3 linked regions of the Homo sapiens genome follow. The protein of the gene in region 3 purifies or fractionates together with the protein of the main gene of each other region. This does not show direct contact. Each region holds a gene or a part of one and is shown on either strand. Other genes may lie near its edges.

What was found. The genes of interacting proteins can lie anywhere in the genome.
Region 1: the proteins of FLRT1 (region 3) and RADIL purify together in Homo sapiens (affinity purification with mass spectrometry; 2 studies listed by BioGRID and IntAct, with this or other methods). This does not show direct contact.
Region 2: the proteins of FLRT1 (region 3) and PCDH7 purify together in Homo sapiens (affinity purification with mass spectrometry; 2 studies listed by BioGRID and IntAct, with this or other methods). This does not show direct contact.

Annotation. Positions count from the first base shown.
Region 1 is NC_000007.14:4,873,697-4,880,880, forward strand, and holds part of RADIL (ras-associating and dilute domain-containing protein), read right to left. Parts: intron 4,508-7,184; 5' UTR 4,444-4,507; coding exon 3,909-4,443; intron 1-3,908. UniProt on the Homo sapiens protein: Downstream effector of Rap required for cell adhesion and migration of neural crest precursors during development.
Region 2 is NC_000004.12:30,715,348-30,723,388, forward strand, and holds the start of PCDH7 (protocadherin-7 isoform d precursor), read left to right. Parts: upstream 1-5,021; 5' UTR 5,022-6,075; coding exon 6,076-8,041. Other genes in the region: uncharacterized protein LOC124900844, read right to left, coding at 1,994-2,560.
Region 3 is NC_000011.10:64,031,877-64,039,007, forward strand, and holds the start of FLRT1 (leucine-rich repeat transmembrane protein FLRT1), read left to right. Parts: upstream 1-4,054; 5' UTR 4,055-4,283; intron 4,284-4,805; exon of another isoform or gene 4,806-4,899; intron 4,900-7,131.

The sequences.
Region 1 (7,184 bases), on a different chromosome or scaffold from region 3:
TGAGGGCCACTCTCAGGACAAACAGACACCACAGCAGCCCCATCGGTGCCCAGGGAGGCGCAGGACAGGCGGGCTGCTGGAAGGCGCAGAGCTCACCATCACCGGAGGTATGTAATGGAGAGGACACGGTGGGTGTTAGGAAAGCCTCCCCACCACGATTCTTCCACGTCACTCCAACCTGAGGCAGGCTGGCGCCCACGGCTGCTGGAGAAGCTGCTACAGTGAAAAACCCCTCGGCTTCCCACCTCCTCCCCTTCTCTGGCTCTCAGTCGTTCCCCTTGGAGGGGCGAGGGAGGAATCGCCTAGTGCCGGCTGCAAACTCACTCAGGGGGACGTGGGACACAGCAAAGGCTCAGTGCCCTCCCCGTTCCGTGCCTCCAAGCCAGCAGGAGAGACCTCTCAGAGGCGGGTTCCAGGGATGTGCACAGAGGCCGCCTCCAACCCACGGAAAGGCCGTGCAGGTGTCTCACGCAGGGAACAGTTCCAAGTGGGAGACTGTGTGTGTGAGCACCTGTGTGGACATTTCTCTGTCCAGGTACCCATGTGTCACCACAACAACCGAACACACTCTAGCGCAAAGCTTCTGGGCGCGGGCCTGTTTGAGGCAGGGCTGTCCAGCTACAGTAAGGTCTGTGCGGGGTCATCCCCAGCGGAGCCTGGCTTATCCACGTGGGGACCCCCTGGGTCTAGCCTTCCCCCGGCTCCAGGCAGAGGCTCAATAACCGTTCTGTAATGAGCAGAAGCATGTGTGCATGCCTCTACCAGCTGCTCCATCTCAAACCACCCGGCCGCCTCAGTGAACCTTCTTGGCATGGCTGAGGGTCACAGGAGTCCCTGGGCCACAGCCAGAGAAGGTCAGCAAGGAAGGATGAGTGCCCGAGGCCCAGGGGGCCAGCTCTGGGTAGGTAACACAACCTGCTCCAGCCCAGATGAGTGTGTCAGTATGGCTGGGCAGCCTGATGGACTCTCTTTGGCAGGTTTCGAAAACCGCCACGAGCTTAGACAGGCTGTGAGCAGGGGTGCTTTCGCTCGCCCTGAATAATTTAACAGGAATGATTCCAAAAGAAGTGCATGAGCTTGGCCGGGTGTGGTGGCTCACACCTGTCATCCCAGCACTTTAGGAGGCCAAGGTGGGCAGATCACCTGAGGTCCGGAGTTCGAGACCAGCCTGGCCAACATGGTGAAACCCCATCTCTACTAAAAATACAAAAATTGGCCGGGCGCGGTGGCTCACGCCTGTAATCCCAGCACTTTGGGAGGCCGAGGCGGGCGGATCACAAGGTCAGGAGATGGAGACCATCCTGGCTAACACGGTGAAACCCCGTGTCTACTAAAAATACAAAAAATTAGCCGGGCGTGGTGGCGGGCGCCTGTAGTCCCAGCTACTCGGGAGGCTGAGGCAGGAGAATGGCGTGAACCCGGGAGGCGGAGCTTGCAGTGAGCCGAGATTGTGCCACTGCACTCCAGCCTGGGCGACAGAGCGAGACTCCATCTCCAACAACAACAACAACAACAACAACAACAACAACAACAACAACAACAAAATTAGCCGGGCGTGGTGGTGGTGCATGCCGTAATCCCAGCTATTCAGGAGGCTGAGGCAGGAGAATCGTTTGAACCTGGGAGGCAGAGGTTGCAGTGAGCTGAGATCATGCCATTGCACTCCAGCCTGGGCGACAGAGAGAGACTCCATCTCAAAAAAAAAAAAAGAAGCACGTGAGCCTCAGACAAGCTCCTGTCTCCTGCAACATGCACTCTGGCCCCACCATCCTACACTGGCAGTCGCCTATCACCTGTGAAGACGGCGGGCCTTCCCAGGGCTCCTCCTCGCCCGGTGACACACAACGCAATGGCCTGAGGACAGGCCAGGCTGATCCCCAGCCACACAGCAGCAACCCTGGCCCGTGCTCTGCAGCCCCAAGGTGGCCCTGTCCCACTCGCTTTTTGCCCGCTGCTTGGCAGAGGCAACGCATGGTGGAAGAATGACCGAAATTCTGTGTCTGACATTGAAGAGCCTTTGTTCCCGTGCAGAAAACATCCCACCATGCGCCTCCTCCCTTTCGGGTTTCCTGGCCTCACAGGAGGTCTTTTTGAATCAGGAGGGGAGGGACCCCATCTCTGCCACCGGATCACCGGTCCTTCCAAGGGACCACTGGATCGTGACATGGCAGGGTCAGGATGAAAACCAAATCCCAGAAGTGGCGACCTCTGGGTGGAGGAAGGATCCCCAGGTGCAGGCAATTGGGGGTGCTTGTCTGAGCAGACTTTAAGAGCCATAATTAAAGCAACCACAAGTTACTCTTTTTATTGTTATTTTTTTGAGACAGGGTCTCACTCTGTTGCCTGGGCTAGAGTGCAGTGGTACAATCCTGGCTGCAGCATCTGCGGCTCAAGCCATCTTCCCACCTCAGCCTCCTGAGGAGCTGGGACCATAGGTATGCACCACCATGCCTGGCTAATTTTTTTATTTTTTGTAGAGATGGGGCCTCACTATGTTACCCAGGCTGCTCTCAAACTCCTAGGCTCAAGCGATCCTCCTACCTTGGCCTCTCAAAGTGTTGAGATTACAGGTGTGAGCCACCACACCCGGCCAAATTTATTTTATTTATTTATTTATATTTGAGACTGAGTTTCGTTCTTGTTGCCCAGGCTGGAGAGCAATGGCATGATCTCGGCTCACTGCAACCTCCGCCTCCCAGGTTCAAGCGATTCTCCTGCCTGAGCCTCCTGAGTAGCTGGGATTACAGGCGCCTGCCACCACGCCCGGCTAATTTTTGTATTTTTAGTAGATACGGGGTTTCACCATGTTGGCCAGGCTGGTCTCCAACTCCTGACCTCAGGTGATCCACCTGCGTTGGCCTCCCAAAGTGCTGGGATTACAGGTGTGAGCCACCGCGCCTGGCCAAAATTATTTTTTATGACACACACCTATTAAGATAATCAACTTCTTTCCACCAATTGAATAAATCACCAGACACAGTGGGCCCCAGGCCCCGGGGCTCTCAAACTCTGCGGCAGGCACTCAACGCCACCCGTGCTCTCGGCACTCCTCAGACCGACAATGATCGGCTGCCCGTGGCCAGGCCCTCCTCAGGAAGGCCTCCCACCACCCAGGCACCCACAGACCCGCGGTACGCTGAGTGCACCGTGGTCACCTCTGGAGACCTTGCAACCCGGCAATGCCACGTAGGTTTTGGCCTGGGACAGATTCCTTGATTGTCTTTTCACTTCATTGCCCCAAAAACTCCCCGACAAGGTCGCAGGTGCTAAAGGACTTGGAGGGACCCTGTATTTAACAAGGCGTGCGTGGTTGCTATGGTCAATGAGATGACTGCTGGAGAGCTGGACAATAATCTGATCAGACAAAAGAACAGATGTGGCCTCAAATATTGCAAGAATATATCAGGAGCCTCTGAGGAACACCAGCCAGCCTCCTGCTGCGTAGACAAACTACAACTTCCCAGACAGCTGAGGTGAAAGTGGTGAGTTTAAGAGGAAACCTTTGGGAGGCCAAAGTAGGAGGATCGCTTGAGGGCAGGAGGTCAAGACTATCCTGGGTATCACAGCGAGACTCCTGTCTCTACAAAAAGTAAAAAATTAGCTGGGTGTGGTGGTGCACCTATAGTCCTAGCTACTCAGGAGGCTGAGGTGGGAGGATCGCTTGAGCCCAGGAGGCTGCAGTGAGCTGTGGTTGCACCACTGCACTCCAGCCTGGGTGACAGAGCAAGACCCTGTCTCAGAGAACAAAAGAGGAAGGCTTCAAACATCCAGGACACGGGCTCCGACTGCCTCCTGCAGAGCGAGCCCGCCCCACGCATGTCCCCTGCACCACTCCTTCTCCGCCTACCTCGGCTGGCCTTCTCAGCGCTCAGACCCACGGCTCTTCCTGAACCTGTGGCCCCCCTCACCTGCCGTGATGGTGTCCACCTCCTTGGCTGCCAGCTCCTCCACGTCCGACCTCTTCCTCAGCTCAAACCTCCGGGATAAACCTTCTCGGGGTTTCCATAATTCCTGGATCAAGAGGGGCTTCTCACTGTCCCCAAACACCCGAAAGCACCGGGCCTGCCACCGCTGCCCAGCATCGCCGGCTTGGCCCACCACGTCACACAGCACGTACTGGCCGGCCTGCCTGGGGTCCAGGGCGTACCGCTCCAGCGCCTCCTTCACCAGCTCACGGGCGCTGGAGGTGCCGGTGGCCAGGACGCTCTTGTAGTGGGTTCCTGTGCAGACACTGTCCCCAAACACCTTCAGGACACCAGGGGCCGACAGCTGGGTGGAGAGCTCGGCGGGGTCATCGCTGGCGCCCAGGCTGGAGAAGGTGGAGTCCAGGTCCCGGTACTTGTAGCTCAGCGTCCGGGACAGCATGCTGGACAACAGCTGGCTCTGCCGCTTCAGTTTGCTCTTGGTGGGCGGGGACATGATGAAGTGCGTCCCATAAAACATGGTGGGTGAGGCTTCATGGATGAGGACTGTGGGCTTCAGCCAAAGGATGTGGGGAGGCCGTGACCTGGGTGAAAAAGTGAGAGAGGTTAGCGCCAACCATCGTGACCACCAAGAGCAAATGAGGCCACAGGCGGTGACTCCTGCCCGTCATCCCAGCGCTTTAGAAGGCCAAGGTGGGAGGACGGCTTGAGCCCGGGAGTTCCAGACCAGCCTGGGAAACATAGTAAGGCCCCGGCTCTACAAAAAATTTAAAAATTAGCCAGGCATGGTGGTGTGCACTGTACCCACTGCTCTGAAGGCTGAGGCTGGAGGATGGCTTGAGCCCAGGAGTTCAAGATTGCAGTGAGCTATGATAGTGCCACGGCCCTCCAGCCCGGGCAGCAGAGCAAGACCCCATCTCAAAATCTAATGGACATAACAGGCCGTGGGCATCCTGGCCCCGCAGACCTGACACCAGAGCACCTGAGCAGAGGATGTGGCTGGAGCCTGCAGGGCCACCAGAGACCGAGAGGACTAAACGGGCTGGAGCGCCCTTCAAGGAAAGCCATTACTGGGAAACACAATGAGGTCGCCTAAGTAAGACACGCTCCGCTGCAGGGCTTGGATTTCTGGAAAGTGCTGGGCGCAGCGCCCGTGTGCAGTGAGCATCAAGGAGCGCCCCACCCGGAGCCGGCCCCAGCACCATCACAGCCACAGAAGAGCAGCGGGCAGCCCAAGGGCAAAGCTTCGCCTCTCCGTAAACCTCGTGTCTCCTACCCCACAGGCTGCGACGTGGGAAATGGGTCACAAACACAGTGCAACCAGGAAAACAGGCGAATCGCAGCCACGTTGGCAGAATAGACCATCAGACATTCCAGACACAAACCCCCAGAATCTACCCCTCAGGGCAAGAGACCCGTCCTGGCTTGAAGGAGATACTCCCTGGGATGGCAGCACTGAGTGGCCTCGCAAGCACGGCGGGCACAAAGGGCCCCTCTCGAGCCGGTGCAGGCATGGCCGGAATGCAGGCGTCCCGCCCACCACAGGCCGCGGGTGCCCGGCGCTCCAGGCCACAGAGATGCAGTCTCCTGGGGAAACGGGAAAACAGCCTGGGACGCGTTGGCGTGTCATACAATCACACTTCTAATGTCCGTAGCGTGCCCAGGGCCAGGAGTTCCAGATGGTTTCTCAGTCTCCCTCCAGAACCTCTGTGGGGGCAGGAGGGCAGAGAAAAAGGAAGGCAGGTCTCCGATTTGGAAAAGGTGAGGCTGGACTGCAAGGCAGGAAAATACTGGAAAACTGCGCACACATCTCCCCATTACTGTACCCCACTTCCGTGCTCATGTTCTCACCAAAGACAAAGGTGGCAGACGAGTGAGCCAGGAGGAAAGCCTATTTTCTGGAAAGCTCTGGAAAGAGTGGTCCAGGTCCCAGTGAACACAGCACGGGTCGCCTGCCACTGCGACCGGGGTCAGTACTAAACACCGCAGCAGCCAACTGTCACTGTCCAGGCTTGACTCACTCGTCACGCTGCGGGCGCTGCAAAAGGCTTCTGGAAAGGACGGTGGCTGCCTAGGGCCACAGAAAGCAACCAGGGAACCCCTCCAAAGAAAAGGAGCCACACTGTCCCTTAGGAAACTAAACAGTGGAACCGCCCCAGCCTCCAAAGCTGACACTGCGAACTGGCCTCTTTCTAATATCACCGGGGCGTGGGTCATCTTCTCTGGAGCCTCTCACTGCCCGCCAGAGCTGTCATGGGTGAGTCCTGAAATCAGACCACCACTCGCTTCCTCCAGAACCAGCCCAGGTCAGCCAGCAGCTGTGCTTTCTCCGAGGACCTTGAACTCTTCAGAAATACTTCCGACAGCTTCGCACACCAGAGACTGGGTTCCCAACGCGGACGTCTGCCCTGCGGGGTGGGTGGCTGGCCCTTCTCCTGTTCCTATAGCCCACTGCGGACACTTCACCACGGCAAAGGCTTTCGCTGTGCCTGGCTTTCTGAAGAGGTGAATTTGCTGTAACAGGTCACGGAGTTCCCAGTACAGGTCATAAGCAGATGGAGCCTTGAGGTTCCATCGAGCCAGGCCATAAAGGAGTAAAGGAGCAAAGCCTTTGTTTCTCTTCCTCTGAGGAAGGTGCAACGAGTGGCCTTGTCAAATCCTAAGAAGCTCAGAGCCGGCCGCAGCTTCCCCCACGGACTCATCAAAGGCCTCGGTTTCATTTACAACAAAAGCATTTTCAGACAGTGCTCACATCACAAACGTGCGGCCTGGCCTGTGCACACCACACCAGCGGCTTCCAATCGCCCTCTAGTCTGACCTCAGTCTCCTGTGGTCAGTTTTCAAAGTGAGTACTTGGAATCACAGAACAAAACCCCTCAAAGAGCCTCTCCAGCCGGCACTTATTAACCATCCATGAGAGCTGCACAACCCTGCTCCAAAGCACCTCTCCAGATGCCCCAGGCTTAGAAGCCTCCAGGCAGCACACACTGGCAGAGGGTCGGCCACCACCTTTTCATAGTGCTCATTTCCAACGGGTTCCCCAGGGTGCAAAGGCAAAGTGCAGGTGGTGGATGGTACAGCCTCTGCCACCAGGCAGCTGTGGCTCAGGAAACCTCTGCCTCCGGAGATGAAGTCTGAATGCTGATATAAATACGATACCAAAAACTGGGGAAGCCCCCTCCAGGCAGGAGAAAGCCCATATCACAGAAAAGTCATGAAGCAGAGCCAAGTATTTAAAAGGCCAAGGCAGGAGAATGGCTT
Region 2 (8,041 bases), on a different chromosome or scaffold from region 3:
TTATAGTCACTGACTGGATCTTTTTATGTGTGTCATGACTTGTAAATCTCTGCTATATTGCACATATTTTGGCATGTAAACCTTTAGAAAATGAATAAAAAATCAACTGTCAATATGTGCTAAACTTAAGGTAAAAATCATTTATTCTGTGTTATTTTAAAACCTAAAACACTCTATTGAAATCTGAAAACCAGACAGCGTGTGAGCTAATAAACACTTAAAATTTTATTTTTCAAAGCTTCTTCTTTTTTTTTTTTTTTTTGTAAATGAGATTTTCATATCGGCCTTGTGGAAATGTTTATAGTTATCCAGTAGATAGTATGAATCAACTTAGTTTAGTTTCTGTGTGCTTCTTTTATAGATACACTGTAAAATATAGCTTTGCATATGATTTCTTGATTTAAACAGCACAACTTATTCTATGTCTTGGCTAGAAACCAATTAAATAACCACTGATGCAAGCAGTTATTACCTGCTTAAAAGGAAATCTGTGGTTTCCTTATTTAAACTGATGAGTTTTAATGTCTATCAAAAAGGCTGTTATTGCAATGAATAATTTAGTCATTTCAGTCTACTAAACATGTTAATACTACAAGCATGGATTTAAGGCTGTAAAATATATCTAAAGTTTCTCAGAGTCTCAAGGATCAGAATCATACTTGGAATAGTTATGCACAGATATGTTTACTCTTTCAAGTAATATATGTTTAAAGGACAATCGTTTGTAGTAATTATTTAGAAAAGGAAGACTGAAGTATCAAATTTAGCGAAAGGGGTTAGAGAAATGGTTGATCATAAAGGCCTAGAAAACACGTCTACAGATAGAAGACCCTTTTTAAAAAGATGAAAGGTCAATGGATTTAGAGATATCCGAGTGTCATTTCCTCTGTTTGTCCCTTGGTGGAGTTCTTGAGTTACTTTCTCCTTTTCTGTCAAACTGTTTTTATCTTTCCAGAACTGGCTATCGTGTTTACTGTATTTAACCTTTTTCTCATATTATTGTGAATACAGCGTCTATTATAAATGAAAGGCCCCCTGAGATCACATCTCCAGCATCTACTTTGTATTCTTAACCATAAACTTTTGTTGTAGTTACTTCTCTTACTGTCTTTTCTTGAGGCTTGAACTACATCAGGGACCCTGAATGCTATTTTTCAGTTCAGCCACTGAAATTTCTTAACGGCAAAACAGGTTTAAGCAAGCGAGGTTAGTAGGTAAATTAAAAAAAAAAAATCTACTGAATATTTTAAGTTTAGGGTAAGATTTCTGGCACAGAAAATGAATCGTTTGTCAAGGTTTTATTAAATGCATATTAGCACGGGATGATATTTATATTTTAATCAATTTCATTTTTTACATCTTGATTTCAAAGGGGTATTTCCTTTTATTGTTCTTTTTTAAAAAGCCACTAAAGAAAAAACAGAAATCTCCATTTCAACATTCCCTCAAACATTTTGCTTCCTACATGCGATGACGTCTAATCACTCTGATCGATGCAAGCTTTAGGGCACTGATCTCATTTTCTCTCTCCAGTTCTGGCCGCCAAAGCAGCAGCAGCAGCAGCAGCAGCAGCAGCAGCAGCAGGCTCTTTAATTTATTGCAGGCGGTTACACTTTCGATCCCATTTCCTTCTGAACCCTTTCCTCTCAGGTTGAGTAGATAAATGCAGCCTCGGGTCTGAGAAGCCGGGGGGGGGGGGGGGGGGGGGTTGGTGGGTGGGAGCGAAGCCGGATATCACATTCCCTCGGTGAGGTCTGGTACCGGGGGGGATTAAGTCTCCCGGTTCCATTTAATGAAATTGCTGAGCACTTGTGACACTGGCTCTAAGACTGCGGAAATGGGGCGGGGGTGGGAGAAACTGCTTCTCTCTTCATTCATCCTCTGCGCCGGCGAGAGGAGAGAGTGTCAGCCCCTAGAGAGGGGGCGGAAGAGGACTGGGAGCTCCAGCCGCCGCAAGGGCGCCCCGAGGGCTCCTCTCACCTCCCCCGTACCCCTACCCCGCCCATTTCCTTTGCTTGCCCAGAACGGCGCTGCAGGGCAAAGCCGCCGCCACTTCTTTGCTGCTCTGGCAGAAAGGTCGGAGCCTGGGACTGATGGGGGTGGGAGCAAAGCCAGCAGGCTTCTTGGCCCCCGCAGTCTGTCCTCGCTGTTCTCCATGCAGCACACGTCGGACCCATTTCCCACGCTGGCTTGGCTCCGCCGCGAAGTTGGTAGGAATGAGAGTGAGGAGGGCGGGCTGGAGACTTCCTCCCGCTCGCAAAGAGGAAACCACTCCACTGTGAAGGACGCGCTGCAACTCCCTAGTCATCCGGGAAGAAATGTGCAGCGCGCTGAGGAAAAGCCGCCCACTCCTTCGCGCCCCGCTCAAGTGTGCGCCTGGAGAGTGCGCGCCAGAGCCGCGAGCAAATGCTTTGAAGATGCGGAGAGGCTTATTCAAGTTTATGGTCTGGAGAGGGAAGAGGGAGTGCACAACGTTTCTGCCCAAGCGGCTGCCTGAAGTTTGCAAAATCTTAGTAAGGCGATGAGGGGAGTGAGTGCACTGCACCATATTGCCGCGCATCGGAATGCACGGCGCAAGGCCGCGGAGTGGAGACGGCTTCTCCCATTTGCCTCCAACCTGGGAAAAAGGGGAACCAGGGTCGGAGGTTTGGAGAGAGGCAGGCGTTCCGATAAACCCGGGTTCTTGCCAAATGTAAGAGGGATTTGGCTTTACTGCCACTTAGCCGGCCGCGAAGGCGCTGCGGAGCCCACCCCCGCCCCCGGCTCGAGACTGCGGCGGTGCGCACTGAGCCTGCGCGCGGGGCTTTTCTCGCTGATGCTGCAGATACAGAGCTGAGAGGTTCGGGTGCCAGCAGCGGGAGGGTTAGCGGGAAGGCCGGGTTCCCTGCCCTGGCCTCGGAGGAGGAGCCACCACCCCTGGGGTGATGCTACTTTCACAGACTGGAAAATACTCGCCAGCTCCCTGACACACACTTAGACACACTTCCATCCAACGGGCATCTACGATCCCCTGTAGGGAGAGCTTGGAAATCTCTGCCGCCTCTCCCTCCTCATTCCTGTTCCTGCGCCCGCCCAAACAACCGCGCGCTACATCTGCTCGTTGACTTTATTGGTGTTTGTCTTGTTTAAATCATTCTGCCTCGTCACCCAGGTCTCGTAAAGAATACCCACACTGGACAGATTTTATTTTTTCGGCTTTAAATTTTTCTTTGAGGGGAGGCCCTTAAATGTGTATGGATACGTCAGGCGAGCTGAAGACTAAGCAAATCCCAGCAGCGGCCCTTTCTCTCTTTCGAGATGGTAAAAATTCTCCCCAAATACCTACAGTCCGTCTCAGTCGTCTTAATCCTAGCCGGGCCTCTTCGTTTACAGCCACTGAAATAAATGAGTAAATGGCTCAGTTCAAAAACACAACCAGACCTGAGATCTGATGAGGCCGGCTGCGGTGGTCGTGAATGAAAATTGGAGAAGCCTTGCTTCAGGAAATAGGGACAGTCAAGGGACACAAAGTCAAAAGGAGAGATGGGAAAGCTGGGGACACTTTGGTACACAAAGTTGCCATTAAAGTTTATTTCCCTTTTATCCAGATAGGTGACGCTACACTTTGCCAGTTACTAAAGGCTGCAGGTTTCTGCTCAGAAAATAATATCGAGGTTTCCAACATGTGTTTATTCCCCAGGCGCGCACACACGGTCTACCCCCGCAAGCAAGCACGACGACAGGAATGTCAAGCATTTAAACAAAGACAGACATCCTTCACCCTCCACCCACCGCCGCCCCTGCCCCCCGCAACCATCCAAAGTCTGAGCTCCCAAAAAAGGATCTTTCTCCAGCTCTCTGGAGTTTGATGTTCTCTCTTCACTACTGCAGCCCGTCATGGTTTTTCAGAACAGAGTGGCTTTCTGGGCGCTCGTAGGTTCCCCAGGACCCCGATAACCATGTCCTAACCAAGATCCTAAATCGCGAACCGGAGACACTTTCCGGGGGGAGGAGGACGTCGTCTGAGAGGGAGGGAGAAGGAGAAACCTATCCTGACACCAGCTCCGAAAGCTCTCACGCGTGAACTGGGCATTAGTCAAGGGAGGAGGAAATTTACCAGCCCGAGGGAGGGAAAACAAGTCCCCCAGAGAAGACGGCGGTACTCGCTAGGGAGGGGGACTGGGCTTTGGCTTAAAGAGGACTGGCTGGGATTGGGCACACTTTGAGCGGCCCCTGGAGCTGAGGCTGGGCTTTCCCGAGCGCGGCGGCTGGCTGACGCTCCCTCCCGCCTCCTTATCCCGGGCCCTCCTCCCTCGCTCTCTCCTAGTGTGTAGTTTCGGCGGCTCGGCTGCTACTGCCGCCGCCGCTGCAGCAGCAGCGTCAGGGACAAGCCTGATCCGTGAGCGAGCGAGCACCCAGCAGCAACCACCACTTTGGGCAACTTGCGGGTTTCCTGCTCGCGGGTAGCGAACGGGAGATTCCCACTAGCGGTTCAGTGTCTCCGAGCCGCTGCAGCCCGAGGGGCGGCGGGAGCGCCCGCACCAGACTCTCCCAGACGCGAAAAGGGACGAGACAACTGCGGAATTCACCAGCCGTGCCAGGGCACTTCCGAGGCCACAACCGACTGACACTTTTTCTCCCCTTGGCAAACTGGATTTTTTTTTTTAAGCTACTTGGCAGCTGTCTCTGACTCCACCTCCCCCTCCACCCCCGCCCGAAAGCCTTTGGCTTTTCTTCGGAAATCCAGACAGAATTGGGCATCTTTGTTAATTGCCGTTGGGGACGCCCGGCCGTGCGCTTTCGCCGGCTAACGTCGCCTGTGCTCCGAGCCTGGTTTGCTCACCTTTGAACTGCAAAGGGATCAAGTTCAGCTTGAGTTCCCTGCATTGGGAAGGAGAGAGAGCGTGCAAGAGAGCGAGTGGGAGAGGGGGAAAGGGGAAAGGAGAGGAGGGAGGAGAGAGAGGAGGGAGGAGAGAGAAAGGGAGGGAGGGAGGGGAGGGATCGAGAGAGAGCGGGGAGAGAGAGGCTGCAATCTCCTCCCTGAATCGCGCACAGCGCTGCAGATCCCACTGCTCCGACATGCGGGCCGAATGCAGGTGAGAAAAGGCACGGACTCTGCGGCTGCGAACCCAAACTTGGGCACCGCACGGTGCGCACTGCTCAGCCTTCGCCCCCGTGGGCGAAAGGCTGCTGCGGTTTCAGGCGGCTGCTTCGTGACTAATGACCTTGCGCAGAGTTGTTAAGAAAAAAGAGAAACCCGCGCTCTCCGGGGTGAGAAGGGACTGACTCTGGGCGTCTCTGAAGATGGCTCGGGCTTCTCTTTGGCGCGCCGGGGGGACCCTGACACTGACCGCTCTGTGACGCGAGTAGTCTCCCCTGCACCGTGCCCGAAGCGACGTGCCGGGGGATTTTTCATTCTCGATCTGTTGACTGGCTCCCCCGCTGCATGAGCAGAGTCGGAGTTGAGACTGGCTTGTTGCTGGCCCCAGCGCCTGGTGCAGGAAGCGACTCACGTTTGTCTGGGTGGCCGGAGCCGGAGCAGAGCCTGGGTTTGGAGTGAGTGCCTGGAACGTGAATTGGACTCAACTCGAGTAGCAGCAAAGACCAGCGGGCTGGCAGGCGGGGGAGGCTGCAGGCTCATTCCCCACCTCTTCCCAGCCCCACTGCCCGTCTGCCGGAGCGGTTCTGGCCCCTTCCGACAGAGCGGGGACTAGAGCCGGGGATTCTCCGCCCGCTGAGGGGATGACTCTGGGTTGGGGGAGCGCCGAACCCGCGGCGCGCAGTGTCCCGTGAACTGTGAGTACTGCGACTGAACGGCGGCAGGCGAGCGGGCGATTAGCACCCATTGCATGAATTATGAAACAATAACTTTCGGAAGAAGCAGGAGGAAAAAAAGAAGCATCTATCGCTGCCCTCCCACCCCCATTCCCGGCCAACTCTCCACGCCGCTTTTGCCCCCTCCCTCCCCTCCCTCTCGCTCCTTCCTTTCCGGGAGAGGGGAGAGGACTCGGGGGAGGGCAGGCGGCCGGCCCCGGAGGAGGGGGGCGCCGAGGGGGCTGTGGTTAGAAGGAGCAGTAGCAGCAGCAGCAGGAGAAGATGCTGAGGATGCGGACCGCGGGATGGGCGCGCGGCTGGTGCTTGGGCTGCTGCCTCCTCCTGCCGCTCTCGCTCAGCCTGGCGGCCGCCAAGCAGCTCCTCCGGTACCGGCTGGCCGAGGAGGGCCCCGCCGACGTCCGCATCGGCAACGTGGCTTCAGACCTGGGCATCGTGACCGGATCGGGTGAGGTGACTTTCAGCCTGGAGTCCGGTTCCGAGTACCTGAAGATCGACAACCTCACTGGCGAGCTGAGCACGAGCGAGCGGCGCATCGACCGCGAGAAGCTGCCCCAGTGTCAGATGATCTTCGACGAGAACGAGTGCTTCCTGGACTTCGAGGTGTCGGTGATCGGGCCCTCGCAGAGCTGGGTGGACCTGTTTGAGGGTCAGGTCATCGTGCTTGACATCAACGACAACACGCCCACCTTCCCGTCGCCCGTGCTCACGCTCACGGTGGAGGAGAATCGGCCGGTGGGCACACTTTACCTGCTGCCCACAGCCACCGACCGCGACTTCGGCCGCAACGGCATCGAGCGCTACGAGCTGCTCCAGGAGCCCGGAGGCGGCGGCAGCGGCGGCGAGAGCCGGCGCGCCGGGGCGGCCGACAGCGCCCCCTACCCCGGGGGCGGCGGGAACGGCGCGAGCGGCGGCGGCTCGGGAGGCTCCAAGCGGCGGCTGGACGCATCAGAGGGCGGCGGCGGCACCAACCCCGGCGGCCGCAGCAGCGTGTTCGAGCTGCAGGTGGCGGACACCCCGGACGGCGAGAAGCAGCCGCAGCTGATCGTGAAGGGGGCGCTGGACCGCGAGCAGCGCGACTCCTACGAGCTGACCCTGCGAGTGCGCGACGGCGGCGACCCGCCTCGCTCCTCGCAGGCCATCCTACGGGTCCTCATCACCGACGTGAACGACAACAGCCCCCGCTTCGAGAAGAGCGTGTACGAGGCCGACTTGGCTGAGAACAGCGCCCCGGGGACCCCCATCCTGCAACTGCGCGCAGCCGACTTGGACGTGGGGGTCAACGGGCAGATCGAATACGTGTTCGGGGCGGCCACCGAGTCGGTGAGGCGGCTGCTGCGCCTTGACGAGACGTCCGGCTGGCTCAGCGTCCTGCACCGGATCGACCGCGAGGAGGTGAACCAGCTGCGCTTCACGGTCATGGCCCGCGACCGCGGGCAGCCCCCCAAGACCGACAAGGCCACCGTGGTCCTTAACATCAAAGACGAGAACGACAACGTGCCGTCCATTGAAATCCGCAAGATTGGGCGCATCCCCCTCAAGGACGGGGTGGCCAACGTGGCCGAGGACGTTCTGGTCGACACCCCCATCGCTCTGGTGCAGGTGTCCGACCGAGACCAAGGCGAGAACGGGGTGGTCACCTGCACCGTGGTGGGCGACGTGCCCTTCCAGCTCAAGCCAGCCAGCGACACCGAGGGCGACCAGAACAAGAAAAAGTACTTCTTGCACACCTCGACCCCTCTGGACTATGAGGCCACCCGGGAGTTCAACGTGGTCATCGTGGCGGTGGACTCAGGCAGCCCCAGCCTCTCGAGCAACAACTCCCTGATTGTCAAGGTGGGAGACACCAACGACAACCCGCCCATGTTCGGCCAGTCGGTGGTGGAGGTTTACTTCCCTGAGAACAACATCCCGGGCGAGAGGGTGGCCACGGTGCTGGCGACAGACGCAGACAGCGGTAAGAACGCCGAGATCGCCTACTCGCTGGACTCCTCTGTGATGGGGATCTTTGCCATCGATCCCGATTCTGGGGACATCCTGGTCAATACCGTGCTGGACCGCGAGCAGACTGACAGGTATGAGTTTAAAGTTAACGCCAAAGACAAAGGCATCCCCGTGCTGCAGGGCAGCACTACGGTGATTGTGCAGGTGGCTGATAAAAATGACAATGACCCTAAGTTTATGCAGGACGTCTTCACCTTTTATGTGAAAGAAAACTTGCAGCCCAACA
Region 3 (7,131 bases):
TCCCGTAGTATACTGGGGCATCACTGGGGCCCCGAGCTAGGAGTCCACCCCTCCTTGGAGGTGATACCCAGGCTGGGGCCTGTGGGGAAGGCTGAGGCCAGGGTTGTGCCCTCTGAACATCTGCAATTTGTCCTTGCCTTGGTGCCAACCCCTGACCACTGCCCTGGGATGGCTTCATGCCTGGATGCCCAGCACAGAGCCTGGGGCTAAGGGTCCCTGATGATGACCACAGACCCCACCCCCCAGTGAGGAAGACCCTGTTCCTCCCTTGAGTCAAGTCACCTCCTTCCCCTGCCCCCAGCTGAGAACAGGCCCAAGTGAAGCCAGGGGTGGCCCAGCTTTAGTTGACCACAGTCTAATAATGGTGAGTCATATTGTATACTTTGTATACTTCACTGTATACGAAGCACTTTCCTCCTGGGACCTCACTGGACTCTCGCTAGCCCTGGGAGGTCTGAGATGGCCTTGTTAAGATAAGGAAATGGAGGCACAGCAAGGCTGGGATGGTGCCCAGGGCCGATGGCTGGTGAGTTGCAGGATGGCGAGCAGGACCCAGATTTAGGGGCTCCAGAGAGGGTAGATGGCAGCTGGAGAGGTAAGGATGCTTCGGGCAGGGCCAGGGTGACCTTGGCTGCCCGGTGGTAAGGCCCACCCCACCAGGCTGTGTGGGTTACTGCCCCTCTGGGAGCCGGGAAGCTGGGGCTTGGTGAGCTCAAGGTTGAACCTACAAATCATCGCCAGGTGACTTGAGCTGCCCTTGCGGCTGAGTGCATCCCCCATGAGTGCCCAGCAGGGACTAGCTCAGTCCTCCAGCCCAAGGCCACACTGCCTTTACCAGTCACCTGTGTCCTCCTGGAGCCCACAGCTCCCAGGGGCTCGGCAAGGGTTTGTTGACTGAACAGTGATCTTTCTGACTCTCAGAGCCCACTGTCCCCTTCCTGGAATGACACTCCCTCGTGGTGCCCTACTCCTTCCAAGATAAAGAAGAGGCACTCCAGGTTTGTCTAAGACCCTGCACACCCATCCTGGCTGACACCAGCCACCTCATCTTCCACTATCCGCCCCCCAGCTTCTGTCCCCCACTCTAACCAAGAATTCCTGAGCCTCAAAGCCAAGGCTGTTTCACGTCACAGCAACTGTGAGCTTCTGCTGTCTGCAAGAACATCCCTCCTGCCCCTCCAAGACCCAGGTCAAGAGGCACCTCCCTGAGGAAGCTGATGTCAAAATCGACTTGGCCCTCTGTCTTGGGGTCACGAGGTAATGCCTGCTTCAGCAAGATCTTGCTAAGCCATAACTGTCTAGGTGCCCAGCCCCCATGCTGGAATTTCAGCTTTGCCAGGGCGAGATCCAGCAGGGCCCGATTCACTTCTGGTCCCTGGTGCCCTAAACAGCACCTGGCACACAGTGGACTCCCAGCCATATCCCCCGAACTGTGCACAGCCACCAGGCATGGCTGAGCGGGTTATTCCATCAGCTTTGTGGAATATCGTGCAGCTGTTAAAACCACAATTATGAAGATGATTTTTGTTTGTTTTTTAGGGACAAGGTTGCCCAGGCTGGAGTGTAGTGGCACGATCATAGCTCACTGCAGCCTCAACCTCCTGGGCTCAAGTGATCCTCTCGCCTCAGCCTCCTGAGTAGCTGGGACTACAGGTGCCTAATTTTTTTTTTAAATTATTTTTTGCCGGGTGTGGTGGCTCACGTCTGTAATCCCAGCACTTTGGGAGGCCGAGTTGGGTGGATCACCTGAGGTCAGGAGCTTGAGACCAGCCTGGCCAACATAGTGAAACCCCGTCTCTGCTAAAAATACAAAAATTAGCCAGGCGTAGTGGTGCATTCCTGTAGTTCCAGCTACTCGGGAGGCTGAGGCAGGAGAATTGCTTGAACCTGGGAGGCAGAGGTTGCCATGAGCTGAGATCGTGCCATTGCACTCCAGCCTGGGCGACAAGAGTGAAACGCCGCCCCCCCAAAAAAATTATTATTTTTATTTTTTTGTATTTTTTTTATCTCAAACTCCTGGTCTCAAGCAATCATCCCACCACAGCCCCCCAAAGCTCTGGGATTACAGGTGTGAGCCACCATGGCTGGCTCGAAGATAACATTTTGATATCTAAGTGTGACATGTCAAACAGAGCTACAATCATACAATCCATTCCACTGCGAGGCATTGAGTGCCCGCGCTCTGTGCCAGCTCTGTGGCTTGGTGTGGGGGTGGCAGGGATAGAAAGGGGTCTCTCCTTCAAGACATTTAGTTCAGAAGAGGAGGAAGGCTTGAACATAATTCCTGAGCCACACGCCAAGTGCTGGGATGGAGGAATGACAGAGCCCCAGGGCCACACGTCCATCTGGGGGTCTGGGAAGGCGGGACGGAAACCACAGCTCTGTAAAAATTACAGCCGTCTCTGCATGGACAAGCCTGGAAGGGAGCAGAGGAACGGAAGCTGTTGACGCCACAGGGCGGTGGCATTGTGGGTGATTTTTCTTTCTTTTATTGTTGGTATAATGCTGTTTGGGCAATAAATAAAAATTGGGAGGAAAAAATAGCTGTTTGGTGAATTGAGTAGAAATTGGGAGAAAGAAGAAAGGGAGTTAAGGGGAGGGAAATTAGAAGGGTGAAGTGAGGAGGGAGAGGCAGGAAGGGCAAAGACAGGCGCATGCAGAGCGCACAGAGGCCAGAGGCGGCGGCCTCAGGCTAGGCCCCAGTCTGTTCCCGGACTGGGCGCAAGAGGGCTGGGTTTGCACAGGGAAAGGAGGGGGAGAGGTGCTGGAGTCTCTGTAGGGGGGACCCTCCCCAAGGGGATCTGGGAGGGCATCCCAGAGGGGAGGTGGCCCCCAGGCCTCGATGGACAGCAAAGAGCAGGGCCGGCAGAGGGGGTCCCAGCCAGACTGTGGGCGGTCTGAGGGTGGATCAGGAGCACTGGGGCCCTGGTGGGGGCTCTGGGCAGGCTTGGGACTCAGAGCAGCCACTGACAAGGTGATGAGGTCTGACCAGGGCAGGCCAGGCTGGGTATATGGGAGAGTCCCTTACTTAGTGTCCCAGCGAATGCCAAGAGCACGGGGACTTTCAGGCTAAGAGGAGGCTGTCTGGTCTAAACACTCCCTCACCCCACCCGGATGCCACCCACAGGCATGAACATCTTCCCAGTCTCTAATAGGTGCCAGGCACTGGGCCAGCCACCCTCCCATTCAAGGTCTTCTTCATCTCTCACAGTAACCTTTGGAGCTAGGTAGTAACGGTCCCATTTCACAATCCAGGACACTGAGGCTGGGAGAGGTTCAGCAACTTGGCCAAGGTCACAGTCAGCTGGGGATGGGAGGGGGCGCTGGCATGGGACCCTGGCACTGCCCCCTTAATAGGTGGGAGGGGTATTGCTGGGGAGCGCCCGGGTGTTTACAGCACGCGGCGGATGAGAGGGTCTGCCCAGGGAAGGGGCGCCAGGCAGGAAGGAAGGGGTTACTTTGGCATGCAGAGTAGGCGGTGGGTACCTGTTTGTGAATGAATGCACGGGTGGACGGATGAATGAATGAATGAATGAATGGATGGCTGGAGGGATGGTTGAATGAGTGGGTGCGGAGAGGAGGGTGCTGGGGAGGCGGCGCGTGAGCTAGAACCCCTTTCTCCCCCGCCTCCACGGTGGAGGTTGGCTTTGGGAGCCTCCCTCCCCCAACTCCCCAGAGGGGTCGGCTCCCCCACCCGCCCTTCCCCCAGCCAGTTTAGCCGAGGGCGGGGGAGGGGGGCGCGGAGGCCGCTTCTCCCCGGCTGGGCCAGAATCCCCGCGCGGCGGCGCAGCCTCCCGCGCCGGGTCCCGCCGGCCAGTGCGCAGCGCGGCGCCCCCGTCCTCCTCCCCCTCCCCTCCTCCTCCTCTCCCTCCCCGCTCCGCGCCTGCACGCACGGCCCCCGCCGCCGCCGCCGCGAGGGGAGAGGCGGCCGCACAGCCTGGTTCCCCGCGCCCTGCTCGCCGCCGCCGCTCGCGCGGGCACCGCCGCTGGTCCCCGCCCCGCCGCCGAGCGCACCCGCCCGGGCACACGCACCCCGCCGCTGGACGCACCCCCCGCACTCCTCCCGCGGCTCCGCCGGGCGCCCGAGCCGGGCAGATGCGCCGCCGCGCGCCCCCCGCTCCGGGCCCGCCACCGTGCTCTGCCGCGCGCCGGGGGCTCCTCTCCCGGGCCCCCCTGGGCGCCCTCCGGCTCTGGTTCCCGCCCGCTCCTTGGAATAACCCCTGAGGCTCCAGCCGTCACCGCAAAGTTTCCCGAGGAGACCCGCCTCCCCGGCCGCTGCGCAGGTAGGGCTGGCTGCACCGGGCGGGGGTCGGGGTCCGCGCGTCTGGGACAGGGCGCCAGAGCCGACGGGGCGGGGGCCGGGGGCCCGGGGGCACCGAAGCGCCACGGGGTCAGGCAGCCTGGCTTTGCCCCAGAGCGGCGGGAGATGGGACGCCCAGCCTTTGGGATTTGGGGTGGGGGTCCCTGAGTCAAGAGCCAAGCACCAGTAGCGGTGGCGCTGGCCCCGCCGCGGGGAGGCGCGGGGTGCGCGGCCGGCGGCTCAGCTCTCCCGAGCCGAGGCTGGAAAGGGCGGGGGCTCAGCTGGAGCTCTAGTCCAAGCCCTCGCTGCACCCCCCAGGGAGGGGGCCTGGCCCGTGGGGGGCGTCAGGCCGGTCATGTGGGTCCCAGCTCCCGCACTCGGGAACCGGAGGAGGGCGCGCGGCCAGGGACAGCCGGCCGGCCTGGGCGCCGCGCTCCCGTCCCCACCAGCCGCGTGAGTCACGGTTGGAGCGAGGTTTTATTTTTAAAACGACTTCAAGGGGGGCATGAGCAGCCTCCAACTTCCCTCCCTGTGCGCGCTGTGGACCGTCAGCCCTGAGCCGGGCGGGGGCTGGGGCCGTACACCTGGCGGCTGGAACGGTGAGACCATGGTGCCTGGGCGGGGGGCGGCGGGCACCCCCCATCCCCCAGCTCTCAAGACAAGGAGGCGGCCCGACCCGGCGGCGCACGCCCCTCCTCGCGGGCACTGGAGACCCCGGGGAGGAAGGCTGGGGAGTGTTGTCGCCCAGCTGCAGGGAACCGTGGTTGATCAGAGCTCCCCGAGGAGGAGAAAGTTGTGGAACAGGGACACCAGGGAGCTGCCACAGCCTTCCCGGTGGCCCCGGGAGGTCTTCGAGGCCCTCCAGGGTGGGCAGTTTTGAGAGAATACAGCCCAGCTGGGGTGTGCCAGGCCCCCGAGGCCCAAGCCAGAGCTCTGATGTGAATAAATACAGCCAAGGCTGGGGACGGAGGTGAGGGGTGACTGAGAACAGCCCTGCCTCACCGCGGCCCCTACGCCCTCGGGTTGGATGGAAACCAGCCCCTCCACATCCCCCTCCCCAGGTGGCTCAGGAGTTAGGAAGGAGGCTGTCTGTGGGGGGGACCCACGATGCCACTGTGGAGGGAGGTGGCTGAGGCACCCTGTCTCTGCCCGGCGGCCGCGGGGGAGGCAGCCGCCGCGCTCAGGGGCTCCAGATTCCAGTTTCTGGAGTTGAAAGCTACTGCATCTCTTCCGCCAGCCCCGGGAGGAGAGGCGCAGACATCACCTGTCAGCTGGTGCTGACTCCGTGGGCGACTGTTCAGGGCTTCCTCAGAAGGTTTAAAATGGAAATGGCCTGAGCTGACAGGGCCCGTGCCTGGGAGGGGACGCTGCCTAGCTGGGCCAGCAGTGAGGGGGCCCTGGTAGGTGTGAGGGGCAGGAAGAGCTGAGGGCTGTCACATATCTGGCTGAAGGGTCGGCCATGGGCACAGGGTGTGTGTGTGTGTGCGCACCCAGTCCCATGTTCTTTCCCAGACACAGAGACTGGATACTCTTCAGTAAAAAGCACCCTGACCCCAGCATGGAGGCTCCGTAGCCCACACCCCCAAGGCAGCTGTGGCCTGCTGGACTTCACCTAGACCTGGGTCTGTGCATCCGCACTCTACCATTTATTGGTCCCTCCACCTCCCTGTGCCTCAGTTTCCCTTGTTGGTAAAATGGGATTGATAGTGCCACCTCCTGAGCCTGAGCCAGGGTGCTGCTTTGTAAGTGCATTTGACGCATGTTGTTAGTGGTCCTGCTCCTGGACTGGAGGATTCTCAAGGGCTGAGGGTATCTGCAGGGACTTCAGAGGGTCGGGGGGTCGGATTTTCCCACCACCAGCCAGTGTGCTGTCACTGGACTTCATCCTCACGCTGGCCCTCAGTGGCAGCGCCCTGTGTCCCCTCCTCCCCATCTCCGAGGCCTCCCATGAAAGCCCCTGGGAGGTCCGCCCAGCTGTTTCTAAGGAGGTGATGGGGAGGGGGTGCTGCCATCCCACTGGTCACCCACTGCCAGAGGTGTACAGACTTAGCTCTGTAGAGATTCATGCCTGGTGGCTGAGCCTGTGTCGCATTCACTGGGTGACCCTGGGCCTGCAGCCTCCCCTCTGGGACCGGCTTCCTTGCCTGCGCAGGGGTTTACAGCAGTTGTCCCACAGAGAGGATGTCTGGGTGTTCTGCGTGTGGGTGCAGGGAAGGGCAGTGCACACATGAGCAGGTGGCATCTGTGCTTGCTTCGAAGTTAGCTGAGAGGACTAGGGCTCCAGGTGGCCTTGACCCTGCGGGTGTTGAGGGACGGAGAGGTGGGTGTAGAGCCCAGAGGCCAGCACGGGGGCAGCTGTCAAGTGGCTGCTCTGGTGCAGGGGGAGGATGAGGCCTCCAGGATCTAGCTGGGCACAGCCACCTCTGCCCAGTCATGGGGCTAGCAGCCCCCTCCCCAGCCAGCCAGACATCCCCAGAATCAGGGCTGGACATGGCCTGATCTCAGAGATGGGGCCTGTATGGGACTGTGTGGGTCTGGCTGTGCTGGCCCTTCTGCTCTAGAGTCTGGAAATGATATCAACCACCTAGTCATCCCTGTTGATTGTGTTCCTGGGACACTAGAATGCCATCACAGGGTCCTAAGGACTTTCGGTTCCTGGGGAGGGTTTCTCTACCTGGCCTGCTAACCTTCGGCAAGTGACCCGTCTTCCTCATCTGTAGGGTGGGGTAACAGCAGTACCTACCTTGGGGAGGCACCCACGTTGAGAGGATGCGTATGAGGTTTCTAGCAGAGTTCATGCCTAGCAATGTGGGGCCCTTGCCTAGTCTACA